Regions from separate parts of the Homo sapiens genome. Here all the other regions are reported to be linked to region 1. The links are microRNA targets in miRTarBase. Many come from high-throughput screens and were not tested one by one. Region 1 holds a microRNA gene; each other region holds the end of a gene's coding sequence.
What was found. The annotated mature microRNA hsa-miR-548f-3p reads AAAAACUGUAAUUACUUUU and lies in region 1 at 2,201-2,219, shown strand. An mRNA with a match to its seed (bases 2 to 7 or 8) in the 3' UTR can be bound and repressed. Matches are read on the target gene's strand: a 7mer-m8 pairs with bases 2 to 8, a 7mer-A1 pairs with bases 2 to 7 and ends in A, and an 8mer does both.

Region 1 (7,125 bases):
CAACTATCATTTCACCCTTTGGTTCTATGAATTTGACTTTTTCAGATTCCTCATATAATCTTTCTTCCTGGTTTAGGTTTCAAAAACAAAAGCCAAGAAGGAAGATTATCTCTGGAAAAACCAATGAGGCAAGGAAATATAATGGCCTAGCTATTTCCTTGGAATTAAAGAAAAACATAATATTTACAAAACATAAGCTGATAAGAAAGATGAATTAAAGCATTGTTCCAACCACTCTGTACATATAATTTAAGAAAAAATGTTGGTATAAGAAAAAGTATTTTCTACTGTTTAAATATTATTATCATTTCCTGTATATAAAATTCATGCCCAATTTGTATGTCATTCTTGAATCCATAGCTTAATAAAAATAACAACAAACCAAAATAAGGTTTCATAAGTGATTTGTCAGTTTTATTTATATATTTGCAAAATGGAGATAATTTATGTGAGATTGAGATCCTTTCTACTATGTACACCTTCAATATAAAGACATTATTATTCTTTCTCAGTTCTGTATTTCTGAAAGTCTGTCAAATACTTTAAAAAATGATCAGATCTATGCAAGTGAAGCTTGCAGAATTTGCATTTGCCCTCAATCCCTCTTCTTCCTCTAGCTTTTCATGTGTCTTGCCTTTGTTCCCATTTCACTAAGCAAGCATTGGCCTGCTGCTAATGCACTCACGTTTCCCCACAAGCTCTCACATTCCCTGGAATATTAAACGAAAAGAGAGCAACCAGGACAGGCAGACCAATTTCTTTCAGGTATACTGAATAAATTCCAGTAAGGCTCACAAATATTTCCTTTATTCTCTAACTACTCAAATTATTGCTAGTTTCTCTCCTTACAAGAAAATAAAATTTATTTGTAGGAAAAGGAAGTGAATTATATGACCAGTGATGCTATTTTATTTCATAATAGTGAATTTTTATTGTGTTTTTCCCATATGGCATAAAAACTATCTCATACAGTGCGAAACACTTACAAGCACTCTCACAATTATTTCCACTTCCAATGTGCAAATCACAGGGAACCCAAAATAAGTTTGAAGGTGCTGTAAGAATAGGTTCGAGGCAGAATATACAGTAGAGAAAGGGGATAACGTTTAAAACTAGCATAATGATTGGTGTGTCTTGGTTTTCTTAAGTCCAAGTACCAGGACTGACAATATGATAAACTGTCATCTCTACCTTAAACTCTCACCCTTGCCTTTCATTTGCAAATGAGCAAGCAAGTGGCCTGTTTTAAACACATGGACCATTAACTGCTTTCTTCTATTTGCATAGTAATGATAGTGAGCCAATGGTGATTTACTGCTCTGACTTGTATCATAAATAACAGATCATTTACGCTGCTAATTACACTCATTTCCATATCAATAATGCATTCTGGGTTGGGTTGGACTACTGCATTAGAAAATGGAATTGAATGACAAATTGATTTCCTACTAAAATGGTGTAAAACAGTTGTCTATGACAAGAAGATACTATTAAGTAATGTAGATAAGTGCAAAAGACATTTTTAAAACTTATCCTGTAGCTTGAATCATCAAAAGTATAGATTGGTCAGGAAAATATTTATCCCGTTTGCAAACACAAATGTGTAACATTTGATTATATCTATTGGTATCTGTCAGTACTACTTGGCTAGAGTATGGCTACCCCGAGCCCTCTGTCTCACATTTACTTTGTGGGTGGGCCAGTTAGCTTTTAGTTCTGCTATGTGATCCTAGACTGCACTCACAATCTGTAATGGTTATTTTTAAAATATAGGCTTTACTTCAAAAGGGGTGATTGTGTGAGAGTGTGGATAGGTGGTGGTACAAGCGCATCATTATTACTAAAGAAGCACTAAAGTTTAATATATGCCTTATAGATCAGTGATGTTAGATATAAACACGCAGGAACCTTGAGGAACTTTCATATTCACAATAAATATATTTATGGTGCATACAGGTGTATGTTTAGAGAAAGCCAAAGAGCAGTGGTAGAGATAAAGAGATTGAGGTTTTCTGAAAACTATTTAATAAAAATATCAGCTTCTCTATTTCAGCTGCAAGAAATTACTAAGACACTTGAAAATATACATTTAGAAGAAAATGTGTGACGAAAGAGATCTAATTTGTATAACCACCATCTTTCTAATAACTATTAGGTTGGTGCGAACATAATTGCAGTTTTTATCATTACTTTTAATGGCAAAAACTGTAATTACTTTTGCACCAACCTAATATTTTAGTGTGCATTTGGAAATAAATGCACGTAAAAAGTAACTAAATCAATTCAAAACTTATTCTCAGATTTGCTTGGAGCCTTCTATAAAGAGTGATATCACATTCAAACTTAAAAGTAGAGAACAATGACAAGTAATATATTTACAAAGTTGTTAGAGTCTAAAATAGATTATAAAGAAGTTCAGACATTGTAAAATGTGAAAGGAGATAAAGTCTCAGATTTGAATTTTTGATATAAGAAGACATTTCTGAAGATAAATGATTGAATACGTGAACATTGATTCAGAAGAAAAGTTTATGATTATAATTAAACCAAAAAGCTGCTAATTCTCATGATTAGGTGACTTATCCTGCATGTTAATAATTTGATTTTTAAGGCATTAGGTGGATAGGTACAACAAAATGAGGAATACAAAAACTTTTCTATCTCCCCAAATGTGGGTAAGAATGATGGATACCAACTAGCAAGAAAATGTTAGGAAAAAGAATGAAGCAAGGACAGTGATTTAAAAGATGTTGTTCATTGATAGATCACTTTATAAATAGTGAAGTGATAAAGATACATACAGTGTAACCAAGAAGGGAAGAGGGAGATGGAGGAATGATGAATTTGTTACCTGTAATTTTCCTAAGATCTGAAAAATGTGTCCTTCTAAATCAATATTATGTTTATACTATAACCAATATGACCAAATTGCAATTATGTTAAAATATGGATGTGTTTTATTTTGAGGAGACTTTTTGATATTATTGTTTTAAATAACCACTGCCTCCTTATTTTTGGAGAAATATACAATTACTTTGTAATAATATACTGATTATTGTATAAATATATAAGGATACATATGTGTGTATATACATATATATGTATACATATACATATATGTTCATATATATGTATACATATACATATATGTTCATATATATGTATCCTTATATATTTATCCAACACATATATATTATATATTATATGTAAAATATATATCTGTTATTTATTATATATCACACATGTTAAAGTTCTAAATAATTTTTTTAATGTGAGCAAATATTGTCAGACTAAAGTTTATTAAAATTTGATTTACTTTTACTTCAAAAGAGTTAATGAATTAGATCCATGATACTAAATTAAATTCTTGACTTTAGTATTACAAATATTTTATAATGACAGTTTTAAGAAAGCTTAGAAAAATCTGCTAGCATCTATAAAATGTCATATATAAAAGATAAATCTGATTAGTTGTGTTCATATTTCTGTGCAGTACTTTTTCTTCACGGATACATGGATAACATTAGGTATCACCTACACCATTATTTTTCTTTATGTATAACTAAAATGACATGGGTCATAGTCTCCAGTAGAAGACCACAATTAATAATTTGATCAATTGTCTTTGTGCTTATACTTTCATTTCTGAAGATAAGTAAAAGGCTTTTTCTTTGTTTATAGACATAAACTAAGTATTTGTGGATTTGTATATTTTTGGGTTTTCCAACTGTTCTCTTTCACAACATTCCCCTTCTACACCAAAAACAAACAAACAAACAAAAAAAGAAAACAAAAAAAAATTTGTTAATCCAGGGTAATCTAGTTTTATCTGATTACTATAGGTGAGCTATAGCTGTTATTAGAGGTCAATTCATTGCTCCAGTAAGACATCAACTTGATTTGTTTAGCAAAGTTTTAGTATATATACTATGTACTACTTGTCTGTAAAAATACGTGTTAGAAAATAGCAAGGCTCTCTTTTTTATATAGCCTTGAAAAGTTGTTCTCTTATAATTGGGAGAAAAAATAAGTGGGCTTTTATGTGCATAGATGGACTTTACCTGTTTCTTTTGGATATATGTGGATATATGTGCATGGGGAATAGCTTGAAGGGGAGTCAACAGGAATGGCACAGAATTTCACTCATTCTGTAGGCTCCCTAGTGGCAGGGAAAGTCCTACCATTGTAAGGTCCAGACACAGTACCAGACACAGAGTAGGTAGGCATTCAGTACATATTTATTTAATGACTCATCAGTCTGAAGTCTTGAAAGTAAAACAAAGATAGTCTCTTAGGTTCTAATAGCTAAGTAGGTAGTTGATTATAGGATGACTTGATGTATCCTATACATCAACTTTGTATTAGCCCCAAGGAGACTCAGACACCAAAATGAATTCTAAGATAAAATGCTAAACAACATCTAATAAGAAATAGCTTATATTAAGCCATTATTGCCAATGATTATGATTAATTAATAATTGTAGATTGTATTTTAGAATTTATTACTTTTAAAAGCTTATGATTAAACATAAAATTCCAAAAAGTTATTTAGGTTTTAATAATAAACTTTTGGGAATTTGGGAAAAAATACCTCATGTACAAAATCTGGGCCATAGGCACACTCTCCTGTAGCATTGGTTCAGTAATTCAAATCATAAAGTCAAGTGAGTGTCTACTCTCATCAGGTGAAAGTATACCTTAATGAAGGGTTCTGTTTGCATGGTGTATCACCTTCCTTAAATTTGAATATACAAACACAAAGCTATCAAGAGACAGCATCAAATGCACAGACTTCAATTAAAGAATTTTAGAAATAGATATGCATGCAGTATTACAATTATTTTTATTTTGATTATGCTATATGGGTAGCAATTAACATTTAATCATTTTCATATATATGTTTGTACACTAACCCAGAAGCTTTATACAGCAGACAACTTATATGTAGATAAAAATAAGGCACATGTGTGTCATACTTAGTTGCTGCTTTTCTACTTATAGTATGAACTGAAATGATCAATATGGCATTTTCTCCCTGAAGATGCATGTTATTTTGCCAATGGTTACCAACTCTTGACATTACTAGTTGAACCTCTATACATGGTCTTCTTTCAGCTCAAAGGTGACACCTCTTTTTTCTGTGATTCAGATAATCACTGTAGCTTTTGGCATCTTCTGCTGTCACTTTTTAGAAAGATAGTGGCTGTGTTACAAAGCTTTTCTTTGTGCTGTGTTTGGTGACTGTAACGTGTTTTCAGCCCATATGACTAATTGTTCCTCTATGTATGCTGATCATTCTGAATTTGCTTATAATTGCATTTTTTTTTGCCCCCTTCACTTACCTAAACCCTATATACTTAAGTGTCATAGATATGGTTATGTTACTAGCTTTACTCAGAGTATTTATTTACACAGATTACTTTACATTTTTCATCGTTTATCCTCTTACTCAAGTTATTATTTTGGTTTCTTCTAAAAATATGGAATATAGAATTCATATATTAAGAATAAAAAATTCTTTAAAGCTATTGTACTCTGTGGTATTTCACATAATATTAACCAGCTGTTAGCAATGACTGATATATACTTCCCATTGAAAATGATGTAAGGTCTGAAAGGATTCATTTTGACAATTTTATATCACATATTTATATTTACCTTAGGTGGTTCTTTTTAATGTTTTAATTTGGGACCACACTAATTTCTAACTTGGTAACTCATCTCTTACCAAAATTAATACCAAGCCAAGAAAAATGGTTTCATGAATAGAATCTACTAGTCTTTTATATCTTATAATGGTAGATCACTGATGAGGTAGAACTCCATAAGAGCTTCGCTCTCACAGTAAAAGGTTTTGGTTGTGCATGGATTACACCTGGTGAAAGTTGGTTAGTATTGTCTAAGTGGCTTAAGACAAATTTATTTTGATTTGTATTGTGATGACTTTGCGAAGCACCAGAATTTTTCCCGCTTCGTGTGTGTGTGTGTGTGTGTGTGTGTGTTTTGAGTCCAAGTCTCACACCGTTGCCCAGCCTGGAGTGCAGGGGCATGATCTCAGCTCGCTGCAACCTCTGCCTCCCGGGTTCAAGCAGTTCTCCTGCCATAACCTCCTGAGTAGCTGGGACTACAGGCATGTACCACCACTAATTTTTGTATTTTTAGTAGAGACAGGGTTTCAGCATGTTGGCCAGACTGGTCTCGAGCTACTGACCTCCAGTTATCCACCCGCCTTGGCCTCCCAAAGTGCTGCGATTAAAGCATGAACCACTGCTCCCAGGCTTCCCTGTTGTTTCTTAATCATGAATGCTTTTGTGACAATTCACCAGCATTCAGGAAATATTAAGGACAGATGATGTATTATCCCATTGAGCAATTAGAAATCTGCTATTTAGTCATATTACAAGATTCTAAATCTGGGATACTTTTCAATGGTGAATTATCACTGTGGACATCTTTAAAACTGCATGTTTCCCTTATGACACCACATCATCATATTTGCCTTCCCTGAAGTAATAACTCTTTTCTGCATGTTTGTTCGTTAGATATCTTCTTAATGCAAACTTTGAATTAGAGTTGTGTAGATAATATACTTTTCATTTGAAATTATTTAGACTTTTTCAACAGTATTCCTAAACACATTGATTCACTTTAGTGGTTGAATTTTTAATCTCTTTTGATTACACAGATGACTCCAATACATTATTATCCAGAGCTATGCAATCAGGTCAGAATTCTGTGTTTTCAAACAGAGAACCCTACAGAAAACCACACCATTTTTCATGTCTTCAAATTTTCCTAGTGTAGTGATGTGGATAGTTTTGACAATCTTCCATCTTCTTCCACTTAGTGGTTCTTAAAGACATTTTTGAAAAACACTAATTTTCAGTTGAACAGTGTAAGAAACCAGGCATGATGGAGAATTCCTCATTCTTACTGACAATATCCCAAAATGACAGCTCCCAAGGAAAGTGGTTTCTCATATACTATAATATGTTGAACATTTTGTACTACTTGTGACACTAGATATAGAAAACAAGACTAGATGACATAAGAAAAGTGTTAAGTCAATTGAAATTGTGGAATTGTTGGTTCAATATATGTATGCAGTTTATCAGCATGAAGAGC
Region 2 (7,125 bases), not on the chromosome of region 1:
CCAAGATAAGTTTACAAAACCTTTATAATACTTTATATGAGGAATTAAGGAGAAAATTACTCATTAATCTCATCATGACTCTGTAGGGCCAGAAAGAACCTGGGAGATGCAGATTCTGTAACCTGCAACGGGGTGGACAATAAGACTACTGAATGACTAGTTTCAAGTGGAATATCCATAACATAGTTACCCCTTACTAAAAAGCAAGGATTTCCTATTTCAGTATCTGAAAGGTTCAAAATTTGATAATGATTACACAATTATGTTCAATAAACAATCTTTTAAAATATATTCCTAGCCTTTACTTACATATCCTACATATCCCAACTATTTTAACTCACAGCTTACAAGAATCAGTTATAAAAAGAAGAGTTTGTTCTGGAAACTACACATGAGATAATATATGCTGATTCAATCTAGGAAGGAAGGGCAGAAGCCTGCAAAATGTGCCACTGAGAGGGAAAGATGACTATCCATTTGGAAGGAGATTTAGATCAGCTCAAGAACTCGCAAGGACTGGTGGCGAGTGGCAGGGTACATCCATCTGATGAATCTGCAGTTTTGGTCGGAAAAGGATGCTGTTTGCAAACACCCGGTGGGGATGAGTACCTGTGCCAAGACATCCTTGAAAACTCCAGGATACGCACCACCTGACTGCGGAACAGTGAGCACAAGACACCCGGAGCGCTGCAGAATGGGCACGGCATCCTTGGTACCGGGCCAGCCCTCTCCACAGCGGCAGGGGCGGGGTAGGGGTGCCCTACTGGAGGGAGGACATGGGCACGACTCCCCGAATAAAAACCGCTCATCGGGTGGGGGCGGGGACTAACCACCACCCTCACAACCCCCTCACCTCCACGCTCTGTTCATCCATTGCCTCCGGCTCTCGGCGGGGCCGCTGGCGACCCGCAGGCTCCGCAGTCTGACCTCTTAGGCGCCGGCCCGAGGTCGCCAGATCAAATCGCCGATAAAAGCCCGGCGCCCACGTCAGGGGGCTCTGACAACCGCCCCACCTGCGCGCCCCATCTCTTCAGGTCCAGCGCCGCCTACCCCCATTTCGCCATTTTTACCGGCGCGCCCGCCCCGAGGCGCAGAAGTAGGGCGAACGGTGGCCGCAGCTCCTTTCTCCCGGCTCAGCCGCCGGCCAGCAGCCGCGCCGGAACCTCGGCCCACGTGACGCGGGCGCGCGCCTATGGAACTGACGGTGGAGTTCAGCGAAGAAGGTGCCGCAGAGAATTCGCAAACACCAACCGTAACCAGAGCAGCTGGGGGCGCGGCGGCGAGAGAAGCTGCGAAGCGCATGCGCGCAGGACGCTGTGGGAGGGGAAAGGAGGGGAGGAGCGTGGAGCGATCGCCTAGTTCCCGCGTTGCGGGGCGCATACGAGACTTGGCGACTCGCTGCCTCAGGGTTGCGTGCCTCCGGCCCTAGCCTGCGCAGGCGGCCTGAGCTTGGGGCTCTGCTACGCCACCCACGCCCACCTTGGCGGAGGGCGGGGCCCCACGGCTCTCAAACTTGCGCGCCAAAGACGGAGCCACCTGGCGTACTGGTGGAAAGCGCAGACTTCAGAGCCACACCCGTAGTTAAGTATTCGGACTCTGAGATTCCAGGGTGGGGCCCAGGCCATCCGCGTTTTCACCCAGCATCGTGTGATTCGGCAGCAGGTGGTCTGTGGCCCGCACTTTGAGAAACCCTGGTGCAGAAGGTTCATGGTTAGTGGTTCTCTCTGGAAGGAACAGTCTAAGGTTTGTAGGACTTGCGTTCCACCTACCAAAGCTAATCGAGTTAGAAGGCTCCAAACTGAGGTGTCATTTCTCATTACGGTGGTGAGAGGACGGGACCACACACTGTGAAGTCTTCGTTCCCACATCCCACACTTCATTCTTGCCGCCTAAGTTGTCGCCGTGGGACTATTGAAAGGGTATCAGCGATATTCATCTTTCCTATAAATGGGATCTGCTTTCTACAGTTTCCTGCCAGATGTGTAAAGATTGCAAGAATTGAAGGTTTGTGAGACAAAGAGGGCATATCAAATTCGTAATTTGAATTTAATTTTTCCTGTATTTATTGCAAACAACTAATTATACTTAACCGACCTAGAGTGCACATGTAGAGAATCACTAATAATCTAGAAATAAGTTCTTGAATATCAGGCATTTAGGCTTATAGGTGGTGGGTAGCAACAATTTTTTTTAACTACTTGGGTCATGAACAAGATATAATTTAGAAAGATTAATCTGAGACTGAAAAATTCTTTCAGTAAGAATTATTTGTGGTCTTTGACCTACATGGAGCTATTTTTACGAAAATGGCCTCAGTTGTACATTTTTAAATGGTTGATGGTTAATATTATGAGAATTTTACTTAAAAGAATTATTTATAGAATGCAGTGCTAGGCCTGGCGTGGTGGCTCACACCTGTAATCCCAGCACTTTGGGAGGCCGAGGCTGGCGAATCACCTGAGGTCGGGAGTTCGAGACCAGCCTGACCAACATGGAGAAACCCCGTCTCTACTAAAAATACAAAATTAGCCGGGCGTGGTGGCGCATGCCTGTAATCCCAGCTACTGGGGAGGCTGAGGCAGAAGAATCGCTCGAACCCAGGAGGCGGAGGTTGCGGTGAGCCGAGATCGCGCCATTGCACTCCAACCTGGGCAACAAGAGTGAAACTCCGTCTCAAAAAAAAAAAAAAAAAAAATGCAATGCTGTACTTGGGATTCAGAGTAATGAGAAGTGGCCCTTGCTCTCAAGGAGCAGTACAGAAGACAAATAAGACAAATTGCAATACTTACATGATAAATAGTTAAGATTCTTGTATGTTTGCCGAAGAACCTAAGAATGTCGAAGGACTTATTGCACCAATTCATAATAGCGAACAATTAGAAACCTGTACAGCTGATTAGAGGCCGTTGGTTGCAAGCAAAAAGGATAACTTGAGCAAAATAAATAATTTAGTTGGCAAGATGCTAAACTCACATCGTTTGCCAAGCCCTGGGGTTTGAGAGCCAACGGTCTGCTCCATCAGAATCCCTTAAAGGCTGACCTTGCTGCCCTCCCCACAAGAAAAATCTCCTAACTTCATACATATCCTTAAATAACTTGCTGTTATACAACTTACTTGTTATATTATTTGTATAACTTGCTGTTATAGAGCTTAAATGTCTATCACTAAGGAACTGATAAAAATGACTATATATCTAGCTGGGCATGGTGGTGCACACCTGTGGTCCCAGCTACTCTGGAGGCTGAGATGGAAGGATCACTTGAGCCCAGGAATTTGAGGCTGCAGTGATCCAAGATCACACCACTGCACTCCAGCCTGGGCAACACAGCCAGATCCTGTCTAAAATTAAAAAAAAAAAAAAAGTATGGTATAGCCATATAATGGATTACAGCTGTTAAAAAGAAGGGTGGATGTGTGACATAACAAAAATATATTAGAATTGAAGACCGGGCACAGTGGCTCATGTATCCCAGGACTTTGGGAAGCTGAGGCTGGCAGATCTCTTGAGCCCAGGAGTTGGAGACCAGCCTGGGCAACATAATGAAACCAAGTCCTACAAAATATACAAAAATTAGCAGGGGTTGGTGGCATGCATCTGTGGTCCCAGCTACTTGGGAGGCTGAGGCAAGAGGATTGCTTGAGCCCTGGAGGCTGCAGTGAGCCATGATAGCAACACTGCATTCTACCCTGGGTGACAGAGCGAGACCCTCTCTCAAATAAAATAATGAAATGAAAAAAAATCTAAGTACAGCAGCAGTACAAGGCATAGTATCAACCTACTTTTGTTGAAAAAAATTTTTTTTAGTTTGTATACATGTAGAAATGCCTGAAGCAATTATTTGCAGATTACCTCTAGATAATTTATATGCCTGTTTTGTTGTTGTTTTTTTTTTGTTTTTTTGGGTTTTTGTTTTTTTTTTTTTTGAGACAGAGTCTCACTCTGTCGCCAGGCCGGAGTGCAGTGGCGCAATCTCAGCTCACTGCAACCTCCGCCTCCTGGGTTCAAGCGATTCCCCTGCCTCAGCCTCCCGAGTAGCTGGGACTACAGGCACGTGCCACCACACCCAGCTAATTTTTGTAATTTTAGTAGAGACAGGGTTTCACCATGTTGGCCAGGATGGTCTCCATCTTTTGACCTTGTGATCTGCCCGACTCGACCTCCCAAAGTGCTGGGATTACAGGCGTGAGCCACCATGCCCGGCCATGCCTGTGATTTTTAAATTCTTAAACATGTATTATTTATAACTTAAGACATAAAGACACTATAGTCACATAGGAGAAAACAATTATAATCCAAATGAGAAACAAAAGATCTAAATTAAGGAGGTGTGAAGATAATGTAGAGGTTGTATACTATGACCATTTTAGAAAGAGGATTGTAGGTTTTATTGACTAAGAAGATAAAGGGATGCAAATTAGTTATACAGGTTTTAATTCCAGACAACAGAATAGTGGCTATTAACAATAAAATCAGTAAGTATTCTGGACATGTTTAACTTGAATATTCAGGTAGGGGATTTTATTGGAAATACGGATCTAGAGCTAGTGGAAGAAGTTATATTTAGGAGTCATCCACAAAGAGGCTTGAGAAACAAATGAAAATGTATTGAGAAGTGCATAGAGAACAATGTTAAGGGGGCTGTGGGGAAAAAACAACATTTGGAAGATAACTGAAGGAAATCATAGAGGAAAAATAGTACAATCTAATTTTTCTCCCTAACTGAAAGCAAAACCACTTTTAATACTAAGAATTTATTATGATCTCTCCATGATACTACCGTTTTTTCAATCCCAACAATCATCATCACATCCCAGAGCCATCTCATGACAAGAGCTTTCTAAATACTAATTGCCTGAACACTGAAGAAAATTAATATCTGATACTAAGGTGTAACTTATTTCTCTGTAATTAAAAAAAAGGGGGCCAGGCACGGTAGCTCATGCCTGTAATCCCAGCACTTTGGGAGGCCGAGGTGGGTGGATCACCATCAGGAGTTAAAGACCAGCCTGGTCAAGATGGTGAAGCCCCATCTCTACTAAAAATACAAAAAAATAGCCGGGCGTGGTGGCGGGCGCCTGTAATCCCAGCTACTCGGGAGGGTGGGGCAGAGAACTGCTTGAACCTGGGAGGTGGAGGTTGCAGTGAGCTGAGAGCGTACCACTGCATTCCAGCCTGGGCAACAGAGTGAGACTCCGTCTCAAAAAAAAAAAAAAAAAAAAAAAGGCTTTCTGTTCTTGAAATATTCAAACTAGACAGGACAATTTTAACTGAAGCTGTTCTCACAACCCTGTTTTTCAGCTATTATAAGTTTGTTAATGGACAAACATGTTCATAACTGAAATTTTAAAATTACATAAAAGTATAATTCTATAACCTGCAGAACTAACATTTGATGCATTTTTCCTAGTCCTTTCAATGCTTAGTTTTTATTACATGTATGTAATATCACTTATTGAAGGCTTACTAAATACTGAACCCTGTATTAAAACACTTTCCTGTCTTGTCCTTCCAAACATCCTGACACTCAAAAGTTAAGTGATCTGCACAGGGTCATAGCTAGAATTTAAAAGCTGCTACTTACATCTCAGATATGACTCCAAAGCCCAATCTTCACTACAAAACTGCAATACCTGCTTTCCCTCTCCCCCACTTAGCATAGTTTCAGCATTTCCCAGAACATTAACAGTAATAATTTATTGGCAACTTGACCTCTTATTGTATACATACAGCATGATTTATTTTCCTATTCACCTAGTACTAGCCAAATGTGTATGTATATTGCTATTATAAACAACCCTGTGATTAACATCTTTCTATCAAGATCTGCCTCTACTTTGAACAGTTTCCTTATTGCCAATAGTTATTTTAAAATAAATAGTTATTTTAAAGGGAAATTGACACATACATATAACACACTCACGCAAAACTGGCAAGTAGCAGATAAGTGCTCTTCTAATTTCAGTTTCCTAGCTTTCATGTAGAATGAACAATTATAGTAATAAAGGCTGAAGGAAAACAAAGATATTATTGAGATACAACAGGGACAGTCTAAAACAGCATCAGAAAGCAAGTTCATGCTGTTCAACATTAGCAGGCAAGGGAAATAGGGAAAGAAATACGCAAACGTGGCTATCACAGAAAAGCCAGCTTATTACTTTAGGTTCTGTGGGAGACTACAGGTCACATAAAAGCAGTCTCAACAATAATGTGACCACATGTGCAATCAACATTTACAAAATGAAATTATATATCATGTATAACACAAATGTTTTGCCTATACTTTAATTTACAAAGCCACATACCGAATGACTGAAATGTACATAAACATTCTTTTATGATAGACCAGAACATCTATATTATCATGACTTAGAAAAAGAAAACAGATGCAAAATAGTGTTGAGAATTTCTGGCCTGAAATTACAAGACTAAGTGTGTGTGTGCATGCGTGTGTACATATATTTAAATCGTTTTATTCTCATTTGATCCTTTTGGCTGAACTTTATTCATATATTATCTGCCCTTCTTCTTATAATCTCTCTCATGAAAGATATCATTATCCAGTCATTGAAGCCAAACCCCCTTCACCAGCCCCCAATCTCTAGACATCAAGGGTTAACAAGACATCTTCCTAAATTTCTCCGGAATTAAGCTCTTCTCTGTTAGAATTTCCTTTCCAAGTCCATTTCTTCATAAATCTGGCATGTGAAATTTGAATTGCTCTGCCGCAGTTTTCTCTTCTTTAGTCAGTGGTGACAGCTAGAAAATAAATGATAAAATCTTTATTTCAAAAACTTTCAAAGACTTAAATCAGTTTAGTTAACTTCTGCATTGTCACACCAATAAATGTTTCCCTAAGCTTATACTATGTATGTAATCACAGATTTAGAAAGGCAAGGGAAAAAACAGATACTTGGCTATTTATATACAAGGTCCTATGATGTTTGAGCTTCTAAAGAACTTGCAATTAAGTTGAAGAAACAAGACCAAGAAATCAAACAATTTAAGGATTATAGCAGAACCAAAGAAGTCATGTTTGGATGCCATATTCTAAAAGTACAGTCAACCCTCAGTATCTGTGGGAGATTGATTCCAGGATAACAAAATCCACAGATGCTCAAGTCCC
Region 3 (7,125 bases), not on the chromosome of region 1:
ACGAATTCCCAAGAAGCAAAGGAAAAGAACTATTGTGGAAGAACTGCTGGCTGATTCTGAATTCAGAAGGTAAAGGAATTCATATTTATTTTATAATATGTATACTTTGCTTTAAAAATGTATAAACTTATAAATTTTCAAATAATTTAAAAATAACTCATTTATAATAACCCATAACATATTAACATGAATATATATTTTTATGAAAAATAATTTAGTGCAAATCTCTTTAATGTCTGGCTTAACTAAAGACAGAGGCTCATACCTGCTTCTGCAGATAACATACATCACGTAGCCCCTGGAAAACACTACACTCATGAGAGAACGAGGGTGAAAAAAGCGATTAATGCCTTAGTATTCTTGAGAAAATAGTTTTTACCTAATGAATCCCTTGAAAGGGTCTACTCCACAGACCACACTTTGAAAACCATTGGTCGCTTCTAAGAAATATATATATCATACTGTGCATTTTCAGGATAAGTGTGACTTTTTGTTTTGCTTAGTCCTGATTTTTGTGTTTTTATCCCTCAAAAATGTTTAAAGCATTTGATACAGCCTGGTGGATGGATATAGTGCATATATAGATCATATATGGATATATGGATAGATAGATGGATATAGTGCATATAGTAGGAAAGTCTTCCTACTACAGTTGCCATTTTTTCTCCCTAGATTGCAAGCAAGTGCTATGAGGTCAGAGACTATACTTGTCTTGTCCACCACTCCATTCCCAACTTTTACCCTAAGGTTATATTAACTTCTAATGTCTGATATATCAAACATAAAGTTCTGATTTTTCTTTTTCAGATACAACCGAAGGAAGTACTCAGAGATCATGGCTGAAAAAGCAGCAAATGCAGCAGGAAAAAAGTTCCGAAAGAAGAAGAAATTTCGCAATTAAGATTTACCAAGCAAACTGCAACATTTTACATTGCTCCTTTATTTACTTATTAAAGACGTTTGGAAAACTAACACCATCATCTAAATTAATTTACCATAGACTGGCCCTGTTCATACAGGAATTTGTATTTGGAAAAAGTTGATTTGAGAATCGATTACATGCCCTTAGAAAATAGGGGTGTCTAAAAGACCCACCCTGGTGTAGACTCTTTATGGGAAAAAAGGAAAAAAAATCTCAACCATTTTAAGATAACTGATGGTTTGTAAAGTTTTCAATGCTTAGTTATTTAAAGAAAATTTAATTAAAAGATAGGAAGTATAAAGTTTGCTAACATGTTCAAAGAACTTTAAAAAATGATCAAAGATATATAAACATTATTGTAATTAATAGGTAGTTTTATGTGTGTATGTGTGTGTGTGTCTGTGTAGGGGACGGGAGATGGTAGAGAGGCAATGCCCTATAGTTAGCTATAAAATTCAGATCCAGAAAGTTGGGATACAAAGATATGAAGAATATGACCTAGAAAGCTTGGGCAGAGGAGCTGTTTTCCTTGCTTGGCAACTGAAACAGGGAGGAATAATTGGTTTTTATCTAGATTTAAGTGTTGTGGTCCAAGTAAAACAGGATTAAACTATAATTTAAGTTGGCCAGGGTTTCTTCGAAGTTAACCCAGCTTACCTCTTCTCCAGTGGTACAGTATGCACCCTGGCTAAGCTGGTTTCTGGCACCCAAGGAGTGTTGGTCATTTCTGTTGATACTTGGTGAGTTGTAGCTTCCTTTATGTTACTATTCACTTTACCTCTATTTTTCCAGCATACTGCTTCCTTGAGATATCAGCAAATATGAAATCTTTTTTTTTTTTAATAATAGTTTTGGGGTACATGTGTAGAACATGCAGGTTACATAGGTATACACGTGCCATGGTGGTTTGCTGCACCCATCAACCTATCTACATTAGGTATTTCTCCTAGTGCTATCCCTCCCCTAGTCCCCCACCCACAACAGGCCCCAGTGTGTGATGTTCCCCTCCCTGTGTCCATGTGTTCTCATTGTTTACCTCCCACTTACGAGTAAGAACATGCAGTGTTTGGTTTTCTGTTCTTGTGTTAGTTTTCTGTTCTTGCTGAGATGATTTCCAGCTTCAGCCATGTCCCTGCAAAGGACATGAACTCATGCTTTTTTATGGCCACATAGTATTCCATGGTGTATATGTGCCACATTTTCTTTATCCAGTCTATCATTCATGGGCATTTGGGTTGGTTCCAAGTCTTTTCTATTGTGAACAGTGCCACAGTAAACATACTTGTGTATGTGTCTTTATAGTAGAATGATTTATAATCCTTTGGGTATATACCCAGTAATGGGATTGCTGGGTCAAATGGTATTTCTGGTCCTAGATCCTTGCGGAATCACCACACTGTCTTCCACAATGGTTGAACTAGTTTACACTCCCACCAACAGTGTAAAAGTGTTCCTAGTTCTCCATATCCTCTCCAGCATCTGTTGTTTCCTGACTTTTTAATGATTGCCATTCTAACTGGCAATGAGATGGTATCTCATTGTGGTTTTGATTTGCATTTCTCTAATGAGCAGTGATAATGAGCGTTTTTTCATGTTTGTTGGCTGCATAAATGTCTTCTTTTGAGAAGTGTCTGTTCATATCCTTCACCCACTTTTTGATGGGGTTTTTTCTTGTAAATTTGTTTAAGTTCTTTGTAGATTCTGGATATTAGCCCTTTGTCAGATGGATAGATTACAGAAATTTTCTCCCATTCTGTAGATTGCCTGTGCACTCTGATAATAGTTTCTTTTGCTGTGCAGAAACTCTTTAGTTTAATTAGATCCCACTTGTCAATTTTGCCTTTTGTTGCCATTGCTTTTGGTGTTTTAGTCATGCAGTCTGCCCATACCTATGTCCAAAATCTCATATTTACTGCTTGGAGTCAAAAGCTAGTAATAGCAGAACTGACAATAACATTCATAGTTGGAGTTAGGGAAGCATCTATGTCTGTTCTCTTTTATTTTAAAAAAAAACTACTTTTGTTTCTGGAATACTATGTTTTGCCTTCTACTGGATAAAATAAGGACCCAGTATGAGAGAATTGTATCCTTTAGTGCTTCTGGCCTTCTACAAATACCTGGATATTTAAATAATGGATGAAGTTATGTTTTGCTTTTTAATAAGCAAGTCTTTTGAGAAACAGGTTTTACTGACTTTGGCCTGTGTCACTAAACTCAGTTCACCTACTGGAACTTTTTTTTTTTTTTTTGAGACGTCTCACTCCATCACCCAGGTTGGAGTGCAGTGGTGCCATCTCAGCTCACTGCAACCTCCGCCTCCCAAGTTCAAGCGATTATCATACCTCAGCCTGCCAAGTAGCTGGGACTACTGGGCATGCCATTATGCCCAGCTAACTTTTGTATTTTTAGTAGAGATGGGGTTTTGCCATCCTTACCTCAAGTGATCCACCCGCCTCGGCCTCCCAAAGTGCTGGGATTACAGGTGTGAGCCACCATGCCCAGCCAACTGGAACTATTTGAAGGCTTTATACCAGAAAAGTATAAAGAATCCAAAGGGCTGCCACAGTCAGGTGTGCTGGTGAAAGAGACCTTCAAGATACCCCTGAGAAGATCTTGAAAGATTTCGAAAAGAATGCTGTATTTATACACCATCTGGCTCCAAGATGCTTTTTTTTTTTTTTTTTTTGAGAGACGGACTCTCGCTCTGTCGCCCAGGCTGGAGTGTAGTGGCATGATCTTGGTTCACTGCAACCTCCGCCTCCCGGGTTCAAGCAATTCTGCCTCAGCCTCCCAAGTACCTGGGATTAACAGGCACCCACCACCACACCCGGCTAATTTTTGTATTTTTAGTAGAGACGGGGTTTCACCATGTTGGCCAGGCTGGTCTTGAACTTCTGACCTCAGGTGATCCACCGGCCTCAGCCTCCCAAAGTGCTGGGATTACAGGCAGGAGCCACCACGTCTGGCCCAAAATGTTCTTAAAACAAAGTAGATGCTGTAAGACTACAGTTGATAAAGTTGGGCTCTGGGCTAGGTTCTTAGCATCCAACACAATCAGTTCTGTGTTCAGTGTTCTGCTGTATGATAAACCAACTGCTCTAGAGAAACACCAATATTCCTCTTCTGAAACCTGGGAAAATGTCTTTTTTGGGTCCCATAACTAGATGTCACAAAAGGAGTGGGGAGTGGGGAGGCTATATAAAAAAGTTCAACAAAACCTTAGTAACTGGTATACATTAATAGGATCCCATTCTTAGAAACAGCAAGTTAAAGAAAATACCATAATGGGAAAAAAAAGTTAACATTTCTGAGAGATGTACCAGGTATTCAGTCTCTCAGGCAGTGACAACTTGTTCAGAATAATTACCTACAATAGATCCCAAACCATTGAAAAATGCCTAATTGTTTACTTAATGGAATTTGTACTTACTATTTAATTAGATGAATATCTTTATTGAAAGTTTTCAGTAAGGGTTGCAACAAAAAGGGCTTTCTAATTAACCAATTCCCCAAGCATCTGTCTAATTAAAATGTAAAGTGCAATTATTCTCATTGTCACATAGTTTTTGAAGTGAAGAAAAATCTTCCAAGAAGTAGGATCAATACCATGACCTATAATTAAATGTCATAAGCGGATCAGTGTTCTATCACTGGAGAAATGAGACATCTCCAATGAACTATGAAATGTAAAATTAGGTAAGTTTGTGCATAGAGGATTTCTAGGAGGACATACAAGACATACCTTCAAATCAAGATGGCCCTGTAGTTCCTCAAGCTCAATTTTATCAATTCCAGTTACCCTCATTTCCAGTTCACTTTAGCGAATCACTATCATGGCCTTAGACTCGTTGTTTGAGAATTCAGTGGTCAAGATTCTTAACTCAGACTACCCCAATTTGTATCTTGTTATCTGTTATCCTGTTAGTCTTCCCTTCAGTTGTCTCCAACTTAGCCTTGGCTGCAATTTGGAATTACCTATGGTGGCTTCAAAATGCTGATGCCTGGGTCTCACCCCCCAAACATTGTGAAATCATGATTTCAAGCCTTTCAGCCACTCATTCTCTGAATCCTCTATCCTCATGAAGATACATTTTTCTCCCTAACCAATCTAGACCCAATTCATCAGACATTTCAAAAATTCTTTGTATGCCCCGCTAGTCTCTTTATTAATAGTCTTTTGGTTTCTGTTACTCTCGCCTCACCAATCCCAGTCAGGGAAACACTCACTATTCTTATTCTTACCAGTCTAGATTATTGAGATTCAGGAAAGTATAATGAAGCTATTGACTCAGCTGGGTTTTCACTGCCACTCCACAATCCATTTATTCAATTTTAAATACTTTCTGCCAAATTCAGTCATTCATCCTGCGAGTCAGCTAACACAAATAATTGAGTCCTGTGCATTATATAAGCACTTGGGTACAGCAGGGAAGCTAATGCAGCCTCTACACCCAAAGAGCACGCAGGAGATACAGGACACTTCCATTCTCCCAGAACCCAACTTCCACGCCTAGCCTCAGCAAACTACTTACTCCTCCTCCGCTAAACCAGCCATGGCCATCTGATGAAGGCTGCCTTACCTCCTCATGGCCCCACCAGTCTAGAGAAACTGTTCCTACATACTGCTATATTCAATTTTTTTCTCAGTCTTCATCCCTTCTAACCAGACAATGTCATCTGACACACTGATCTTCCCCTTCTTGAGGCTTCAGCTACTCTGCTTCGGTAGGAAGATCAGCTTTTCTGCTTCTCCTACCTACTCTTTATTTTTTTACTCTGTCCATCACTTAAATTGTTGGTTTCCCTAATGCCTGCCCTCATCTTCTTTCTCGATACTGTTTGACTTGAGTATCTTGTCCTCCCTCTCCTTCAACTTCTGCTCTCATCTCTTCAGATGACACCAGAGTCTCCATCCTTACATCTCTATCCCCCACCCTCTGTTGCAGACTCACATTTCCAATTAACTGTGCAAATTACCCATATGAAGTACTAGTAAGTTATCTCAAATTCCACGTATCTGGAACCAAACACATCATTTTTCTGAGATGATTAAATAAAAACTAGCACCATGCCTAGTAAATAACAAGTACTCAAAGGGAAGCTACTGTTTCCCTTTTCTCCCCCAACCTCCCCATTGAACAGTTTTAATGAGGCCATACTGCATTTTACCTTCTATGGCTCACCTCTGCGTAATGACACATACAGAAACCCTACATTCAAGACCTGACATTCAAGCCCCTCCACAAAATGACGCCACCACAGGTTTATATTCACTGCTTCCCTACTCATGCCCTAAACTTCACTTGTGCTACTTACTTGCCTATTTCTCTCTCAGCTCTTTTCACACCCTTTCTCTGGTCTGCTCTGGAGTGTCTGGATTGCAGGAAACTACATTTCCCAGATTCCCTTGCCAACTGGCTTAACAGTAAGACACTGACAAAAGACAGAGGGGCATGAAGAGGAAATAAACCAGGGTATTTCTCTCCTCTGCCTTGGTTTGGGTTGTGGCCCCACCATGCTCCCAGCCCCCACCAGCCAGATGACTCAGGCTTCCAGGTTCCGGTAACACCATCTCCCATTGTCCCTCTGGCACTAGAGGTGGTAGACGTTTCCTACTGTTGCAGTATCTGCGTTGCCAACACTTTCAGCATTTCTGCCACCTGTGGAACAATTCCCTATATTAAATTCTCTAGAGTGATGTGTTTTTCTGTCCAAACCAGACTGATACATTTCAGCCAAACCAAACTACTTGATACTGAGCATTCATTCAATCAACATATACTGAGTTCCATGCACACCAAGTACCATGACAGGTTCACCTTTTATGTCTTTGTTCATATGGTTAGTTCCACCTAAAATATCTTTCCTGCCTCCATTTCACCTAACAAAATAGTACTGACCTGAAGCCTATTCAGCAACCAATACTTTGAGCATCTCCTCTGTGTAAGGCACCACACTAGGTGCTAGGGGTGCACAGGAAAGGAGGTCATCCTAGCCATCACAGAGCTGACAGTCTACATGCTTCAGAAAGCCTTTTTCAGATTCTCTACACGGATGTATATACTCCTATTTGCCTGTGCTTATTTTTACTCCACTTATTTCTATTTAACAAATGTCTATATAGCACTTATTGTCAGGGACTGTTCTAAGGACTTACACATATAACTTATTTTTATGTTACACTTATGTACCTAAGTTCGTAT
Region 4 (7,125 bases), not on the chromosome of region 1:
TCCACGGGTTTTGCCTTGCTCCCACAACTTCTGCAAAAAATGCTTAGAAGGTATCTTAGAAGGGAGTGTGCGGAATTCCTTGTGGAGACCAGCTCCATTCAAGTGTCCTACATGCCGTAAGGAAACTTCAGCTACTGGAATTAATAGCCTGCAGGTTAATTACTCCCTGAAGGGTATTGTGGAAAAGTATAACAAGATCAAGATCTCTCCCAAAATGCCAGTATGCAAAGGACACTTGGGGCAGCCTCTCAACATTTTCTGCCTGACTGATATGCAGCTGATTTGTGGGATCTGTGCTACTCGTGGGGAGCACACCAAACATGTCTTCTGTTCTATTGAAGATGCCTATGCTCAGGAAAGGGATGCCTTTGAGTCCCTCTTCCAGAGCTTTGAGACCTGGCGTCGGGGAGATGCTCTTTCTCGCTTGGATACCTTGGAAACTAGTAAGAGGAAATCCCTACAGTTACTGACTAAAGATTCAGATAAAGTGAAGGAATTTTTTGAGAAGTTACAACACACACTGGATCAAAAGAAGAATGAAATTCTGTCTGACTTTGAGACCATGAAACTTGCTGTTATGCAAGCATATGACCCAGAGATCAACAAACTCAACACCATCTTGCAGGAGCAACGGATGGCCTTTAACATTGCTGAGGCTTTCAAAGATGTGTCAGAACCCATTGTATTTCTGCAACAGATGCAGGAGTTTAGAGAGAAAATCAAAGTAATCAAGGAAACTCCTTTACCTCCCTCTAATTTGCCTGCAAGCCCTTTAATGAAGAACTTTGATACCAGTCAGTGGGAAGACATAAAACTAGTCGATGTGGATAAACTTTCTTTGCCTCAAGACACTGGCACATTCATTAGCAAGATTCCCTGGAGCTTTTATAAGTTATTTTTGCTAATCCTTCTGCTTGGCCTTGTCATTGTCTTTGGTCCTACCATGTTCCTAGAATGGTCATTATTTGATGACCTGGCAACTTGGAAAGGCTGTCTTTCAAACTTCAGTTCCTATCTGACTAAAACAGCCGATTTCATAGAACAATCAGTTTTTTACTGGGAACAGGTGACAGATGGGTTTTTCATTTTCAATGAAAGATTCAAGAATTTTACTTTGGTGGTACTGAACAATGTGGCAGAATTTGTGTGCAAATATAAACTATTATAAAATCTGTTTCAAGTATGCAGTTTTCTTTTGTTAGAAATTGTTAGAGAATAGAGAGTGGTAATTCAGATTTGGTCAACGATTCTAGTCACATATTTTCCTCCAAAAGTATTCCTTCCAAAAATAATCTATACATGTTCAAATTAGGTAGCATAAAGATAAAAGTGAAATTTAGTAGTATAGGCCTGAACCTTTTTTTGTTTAAAAGAGTGCTTTTGAAATAAGCATCCACCCCAAATGTTGGTTGTATTTATGCTGTGATAAAAATAGGTGAGAGATCATATGATCTAATATTGTATTGATGGAAGTATAGGTAGTATAGTAGTGATTGTTCTTCAAGCATGCAGTAAAGATCACTTTTTTTTTTTTTTTTTTTTTTGAGATGGAGTCTTGCTCTGTCGCCCAGGCTGGAGTGCAGTGATGCAATCTTGGCTCACTGCAGCCTCTACCTCCCAGGTTCAAGTGATTATCCTGCCTTAGCCTCCTGAGTAGCTGGGATTACAGGCGCGTGCCACCACGCCCAGCTAATTTTTTGTATTTTTAGTTGAGACAGGGTTTCACTGTCCCTTAAGACCATCCTGTTAGCCAAGATGGTCTTGATCTCCTGACCTCGTGATCCGCCTGCCTCGGCCTCCCAAAGTGCTGGGATTACAGGTGTGAGCCACCGTGCCCAGCCAAAGACTGCTCTTAAAGCACCTTTTTGACAGTGAACATGGTCTAAAAAAGGGAAGATATTGTAGAAGATTTCACACACACACGCGTGTGTGGGAGACAACTAAAGGTATTGAAGGTACTAATTAATTAGATTTCCAAAATTTTCTACAGAGAGTTAATTATCACCAAAATGTGAATGGTACATACAAAACCTGGCATTTTCTTGTGATAAGTTTACATTTTTAGGAGAGTGGAGCTTTCAATCTGCCCTTTTCTCCTTTGTTTTTGTAGTTTTCACCAAAGATGATCAACTAGAAATGTTAAGTGGCTATGCAAGCAAAAGCATAGATAGGTTAAAAAAAAGGATCAGCTGGCTGGGCAGGGTGGCTCATGTCTATAATCTCAGCATTCTAGGACAGTGATGTGGGAGGATTATTTGAGGCTAGGAGTTCCAGTTCGAAACCAGCTTCGTAAACATAGCAAGACCCAGTCTCTACCAAAAAAAAAAAAAAAAAAAAAAAAAAAAAAAATATATATATATATATACACACACACACACACATATGTACACATACATATATATACATATATATGTATATATAGAACACATGGCAAGAGCAGGAAATGGGAAGACTACCTTTTTTCTGGCAGCTATGTGTTGTTTTGTTCGAAAGATGGCAAGTGTACAACCAAACCAATCCACTTGCTTACAGAAAGAATGTTTAGTGTAGTTAAGACTAATTTGACAACAGATAAAACAGTCTGTCAGCTATTACAAAGTAATCAGCTGAACACTAATGCTGTTCTGTCTGCTCACAAGAGATAAAGATACCCTCTCATGGAATAAACACCTTGCTTAGAATTCATATAACAAAGAAGTAACCTTATAACTGCTCTCTAGTCTGCCTTATTTGTGTCATAGAGTAAGATATTCCTTGAAAGCCCATTAAGTGGAATAGACTTTCTGAAAATAAGAGTTCTTTACCTCAGTCCTCCTCTAATTTGGTTGAGAGGAGGTAATGAAAATGGGGACAGGATAAAAGGTGGCAACTAAATTTAAAGCACAGAAGAAATGATTTCCTTCTAGCTATGAGAATAGTCAAATTGAGCTTGCCAGGCTGTCTCATTCCTAACATGTAATTCATGATTTAGCCACTAAATTTCTAAGGAGATCATAAGAAATTAAGAAAAACGTTTAAGTCTAGCCTCTGCGTGGTAGACAGGTATGGGGAGGGAGAATGCTTTTCCCCTCCCAGTAATAAAAAAAAAAAAAAAAAAAATATATATATATATATATATATATATATATATATATATATATATATATATATATATAGTTTTACTAGGTTTTCATGGATAAGTTTTTAAATGTAAGACAGGAAAGGGATCTATTTGATGTCTATCTTCAGATATATTGGCAGTTTTCCTTAAGCTATTTAGTTCCTCATCTGTTGCTTTTTCATTTTGTATACTGCAAGTTCCCAGGCAACTCGAATTTGCAAACACAGCCATGGATACACTATTTACCTTACAGTAGTTTCCTGGGAATCTAAGTCTGGTTTTTGTTATTCTTCCCTCCCCTCCACTGCATAATCATGTATAACTAGCAACATTTATGGTTATAGGTTGATTTCCTAAGTGTGGCTGATGGTAGCCTCTAGTTTGAAGTGAGGGAAGAATGAGTAGTCAGGAACTGGTCACTTTGAATGTGGGAGGGAAGATATTCACGACAAGGTTTTCTACGATAAAGCAGTTTCCTGCTTCTCGTTTGGCACGCATGTTAGATGGCAGAGACCAAGAATTCAAGATGGTTGGTGGCCAGATTTTTGTAGACAGAGATGGTGATTTGTTTAGTTTCATCTTAGATTTTTTGAGAACTCACCAGCTTTTATTACCCACTGAATTTTCAGACTATCTTAGGCTTCAGAGAGAGGCTCTTTTCTATGAACTTCGTTCTCTAGTTGATCTCTTAAACCCATACCTGCTACAGCCAAGACCTGCTCTTGTGGAGGTACATTTCCTAAGCCGGAACACTCAAGCTTTTTTCAGGGTGTTTGGCTCTTGCAGCAAAACAATTGAGATGCTAACAGGGAGGATTACAGTGTTTACAGAACAACCTTCAGCGCCGACCTGGAATGGTAACTTTTTCCCTCCTCAGATGACCTTACTTCCACTGCCTCCACAAAGACCTTCTTACCATGACCTGGTTTTCCAGTGTGGTTCTGACAGCACTACTGATAACCAAACTGGAGTCAGGTATTTTGTACTTTGCAGTATTTCTCTTGTATACCAGTTTGTGATGTTTTCTCTAAAAACTTGAAGTTCCTCAGGCCTGTAACTTCTGGAAAAGATGATTATTCAAAATAATGTTTTGGGGTAACCAGTGGAGTTGGGTAGAATGACCAAATAATTATTTTCCAAACTGGGATACTTTTTAGAGTGAAAGGGGCTATTATTAGGTGGGACAAAAGGAATAAATGAAGACTGCCCAGAAAAAACTGAGACTATGGACATTCAAATCATGGGAGAAAATAATTTTGTAGATTATGTTCCATTGCTAATGAATTTGACTTAGAAAAGAATTGCCTTATTTTTAAGAGATTGTTTCAGTGGTTCACATAAAGGCTCGCTCACTGGTTTCTCTTGAGTTCCTTACACACTATATAAGTTGTTCTTTCAGTTTTATGATTCAACTACTGTTTTTCCTTCAGCTGACTTTATTTTTAAACACCCTTAAAGACAGATATATCTCATGGCAAATTTGGTATCCTGTTACAGCCTTGGCTCTTAAACAACTCAAAATATTGGGATAGGCTGTCAGTATGTTAAGGATAGTTGCTCCTGAGTCAATTCTTCACTTACTCCCTCTGTTGTTCTTGGCTGGATCCTAACGCTGATTTCCACTCTGCTGTCACAAACATTTTTCCCCCCGTAAAATGTCTTAATGCTGTCCTACCATTATTTTACCAACTGTGAAAGCTGGCTTTAATTTTTAGGAGGAAAAGAAAAGCCTGCATGTGTTCTTTATTGGTATCATTTAAAATATACTTTTTTTTTTTTTTTTGGTAAAGGTAGGCGTATTTTAAGATATTTTCTTAACTTGAGCAGTAGCCAACAGGAAGGATACCAGTGTCTCTCTCTCTTAGCGACACACTCCTTGGTCTTGCTTACCAACTGGAGGACACTAGGTAGAATAACCGAGTATGACAATTCTTAATTGTTTACATTTTATAACTTCCTGTCCTTCAAAAGAGTTTGAAATGTCATTTTGGGAAAAGAGAGCCAGTCAAGCTAGTAGGCTGATTGTGAAGAAAATCTAATACCTTATCTTTATCTCAAACCTCTGTACAACTTTATTTTCATTGATGGGATACTTTAACAAAAATGAAATTTTTTTTGGTTTTTAAAATATGAGTGATTATGACCTCTTTGGGGATCATGCTTCAAAAAGTCAGAAACCTAGAGACAAAACTGTCATTGATTTTTAAGAAGAAACACACTAGGTCAAAAGAAGATGTCCTGGAAATACGAAGTACTCTTTAAAAACCATGCATTTGGAGAAAGTAATTGTTTCCTTGAAAAACATGATTAAAAACTAAAACTGGGATGTTCCTGTGTGTACACAGTGCCAAATGGTTTTCCCTTTTTATGTTGTGTTTTAGAAACAGCACGAAAGTTTTTTCCATTTTAAAGTGAGAAAACATTATATTTAGACTTCCATAATTCCAAAATCAGAAGCTATTTTTAAAATTAGCATTTTCTTGCATCACCAAATGGTATTCAATTGTTTGAAGCTCAAAATTTTTACCATTCCATAAATGTTTGTGAATTTTTAGACAGTGCCAATTTAAAAGTAGAGATAGCCAATCTGAATACGGTGAAATTATGGGGATCTCTGGTGATTGGGATGAAAACTCTGGCCTTAAAAGGTCCACTTTTAGTATATAATTGCCTAATTAGCAATCATTTTTATTTTTTGCTCACTCCCTGGTCTGAATCTATCTGTCTATTCAGATATTTTTTGGTAGGTTTGGAAAATGGAGAAGTGAGCCTAATTGGTGCCTAATTGTCTGGTGTATCATTCACTTTATTCAGTTTGTTCTATCAATATGATTTACCCCTCAAGGTTAACCTAGCAGGTTGCTCAGTTATTATCTCTCAAGGTCACAGTACTAGAAATACTTGGCTTGCATCTTTCAGATGCCATTCATGTTATCAAGCTCAAATTATAGTTGGTCACAGGATTCTAAAGTCTTTATTTGACTTCTCCTTTTTGAACTGGCTCAAATGGAAAAGTGTAGTTGCTTTTAAATGTTAAAAATAAGTTTAAACTTTATATTTCCCATTGGTTTCCCCTATTTTGTCCTTTCTTTGTGTGCTTGAAATATTTTATTTTTCAGTTTGTCCTCATAGGGAATCAAGTATTTTAGCTAGGTGATGTCTTGCAAGTACGTTCCACTTTGTTACAATCTACTATCTGTATATACTATTTGTATCTTAATTCTTTTATGAGATGTTCTGTAACATTTTTCTCACTTTGACAAATGTTTTTAGACTGTACAGTCAAGATCTGGCGCTTGGGGGTAAGTGGAATGATTTGCTAATATTGAGAATCTGTTGTATCAAACATAATAAACTTTTTTTGAGATGTGCTTTGTAGTTTGGTAATTCTTAGATTTTACTATTGGTTTCTTTGCTTAGAATGAGTTTCTAAATGTGAACTACAAAAACCACTCTACTTCAAGCATGATCATTAGAAGAAGGTTAGGGATGTCCCCAAGCATCATTTTATCCCTTAAAACTACAGATAGTTTAGGTTTCTGCCTGAACTAATCTAAGTTAGCTTTTTCTTCACATCTCATAAACTAATGGTGGGAGGACACAAAGAGCTTTATGAAAACATTTTTGATGGCAGATAAGGACGGAGTCATAAAGCTGTATCCATGCAGATGTGTTATGCTGACATTATTGTTATTATTGAGATGGAGTTTCACTCTTGTTGCCCAGGCTGGTATGCAATGGCGTGATCTCGGCTCACCACAACCTCCGCCTCTGGGGTTCAAGTGATTCTCCTGCCTCAGCCTCCCGAGTAGCTGGGATTACAGGTATGCACCACCACACCTAGCTAATTTTTGTATTTTTAGTAGAGACGGAGTTTCACCATGTTGGTCAGGCTGGTCTCAAACTCCCGAGCTCAGGTGATCCACCAGCCTCGGCTTCCCAAAATGCTGGGATTACAGGCATGAGGCACTACGCCCAGCCTATGCTGACATTATTAAAGCCAACAGATAGCTAATCTGAAAAGT

Region 2: the mRNA of SKA2 is a reported target of hsa-miR-548f-3p. Seed matches in the 3' UTR shown: 7mer-m8 at 5,925-5,931 and 7mer-m8 at 5,620-5,626.
Region 3: the mRNA of DNTTIP2 is a reported target of hsa-miR-548f-3p. Seed matches in the 3' UTR shown: 7mer-A1 at 1,294-1,300.
Region 4: the mRNA of TRIM13 is a reported target of hsa-miR-548f-3p. Seed matches in the 3' UTR shown: 7mer-m8 at 1,186-1,192, 7mer-A1 at 3,155-3,161, 7mer-m8 at 3,238-3,244 and 8mer at 4,497-4,504.

Annotation. Positions count from the first base shown.
Region 1 is chr2:212,421,378-212,428,502 of GRCh38, reverse strand. It overlaps MIR548F2 (microRNA 548f-2), which reads left to right and starts at 2,143; the gene lies at 2,143-2,240. The region is part of intron 1 of ERBB4 (erb-b2 receptor tyrosine kinase 4); the gene reads left to right. It overlaps LOC124906116 (a long non-coding RNA gene), which reads right to left and starts at 3,012. Exons shown (of 2, transcript XR_007088065.1): 1 at 2,228-3,012; 2 at 1-2,141. RefSeq lists an enhancer at 978-1,511.
Region 2 is chr17:59,105,588-59,112,712 of GRCh38, forward strand. It overlaps SKA2 (spindle and kinetochore associated complex subunit 2), which reads right to left. Exons shown (of 4, transcript NM_182620.4): 4 at 4,270-6,758. The coding sequence ends at 6,690. It overlaps TRIM37 (tripartite motif containing 37), which reads right to left and starts at 1,293. Exons shown (of 24, transcript NM_015294.6): 1 at 854-1,293. The coding sequence starts at 874. LOC124904039 (a long non-coding RNA gene) reads left to right here and starts at 1,509. Exons shown (of 2, transcript XR_007065864.1): 1 at 1,509-2,004. RefSeq lists enhancers at 381-1,040, 697-746, 957-1,086, 1,041-1,700, 1,177-1,276 and 2 more and a silencer at 1,407-1,516.
Region 3 is chr1:93,863,627-93,870,751 of GRCh38, reverse strand. DNTTIP2 (deoxynucleotidyltransferase terminal interacting protein 2) reads left to right here. Exons shown (of 7, transcript NM_014597.5): 6 at 1-69; 7 at 808-4,468. The coding sequence ends at 901. Among named protein-coding and RNA genes, the nearest start is that of DNTTIP2, 12 kb to the left of the region's middle.
Region 4 is chr13:50,011,997-50,019,121 of GRCh38, forward strand. TRIM13 (tripartite motif containing 13) reads left to right here. Exons shown (of 2, transcript NM_213590.3): 2 at 1-6,471. The coding sequence ends at 1,168. It overlaps KCNRG (potassium channel regulator), which reads left to right and starts at 3,448. Exons shown (of 2, transcript NM_173605.2): 1 at 3,448-4,075. The coding sequence starts at 3,498. All of the region lies in intron 10 of DLEU2 (deleted in lymphocytic leukemia 2), which reads right to left.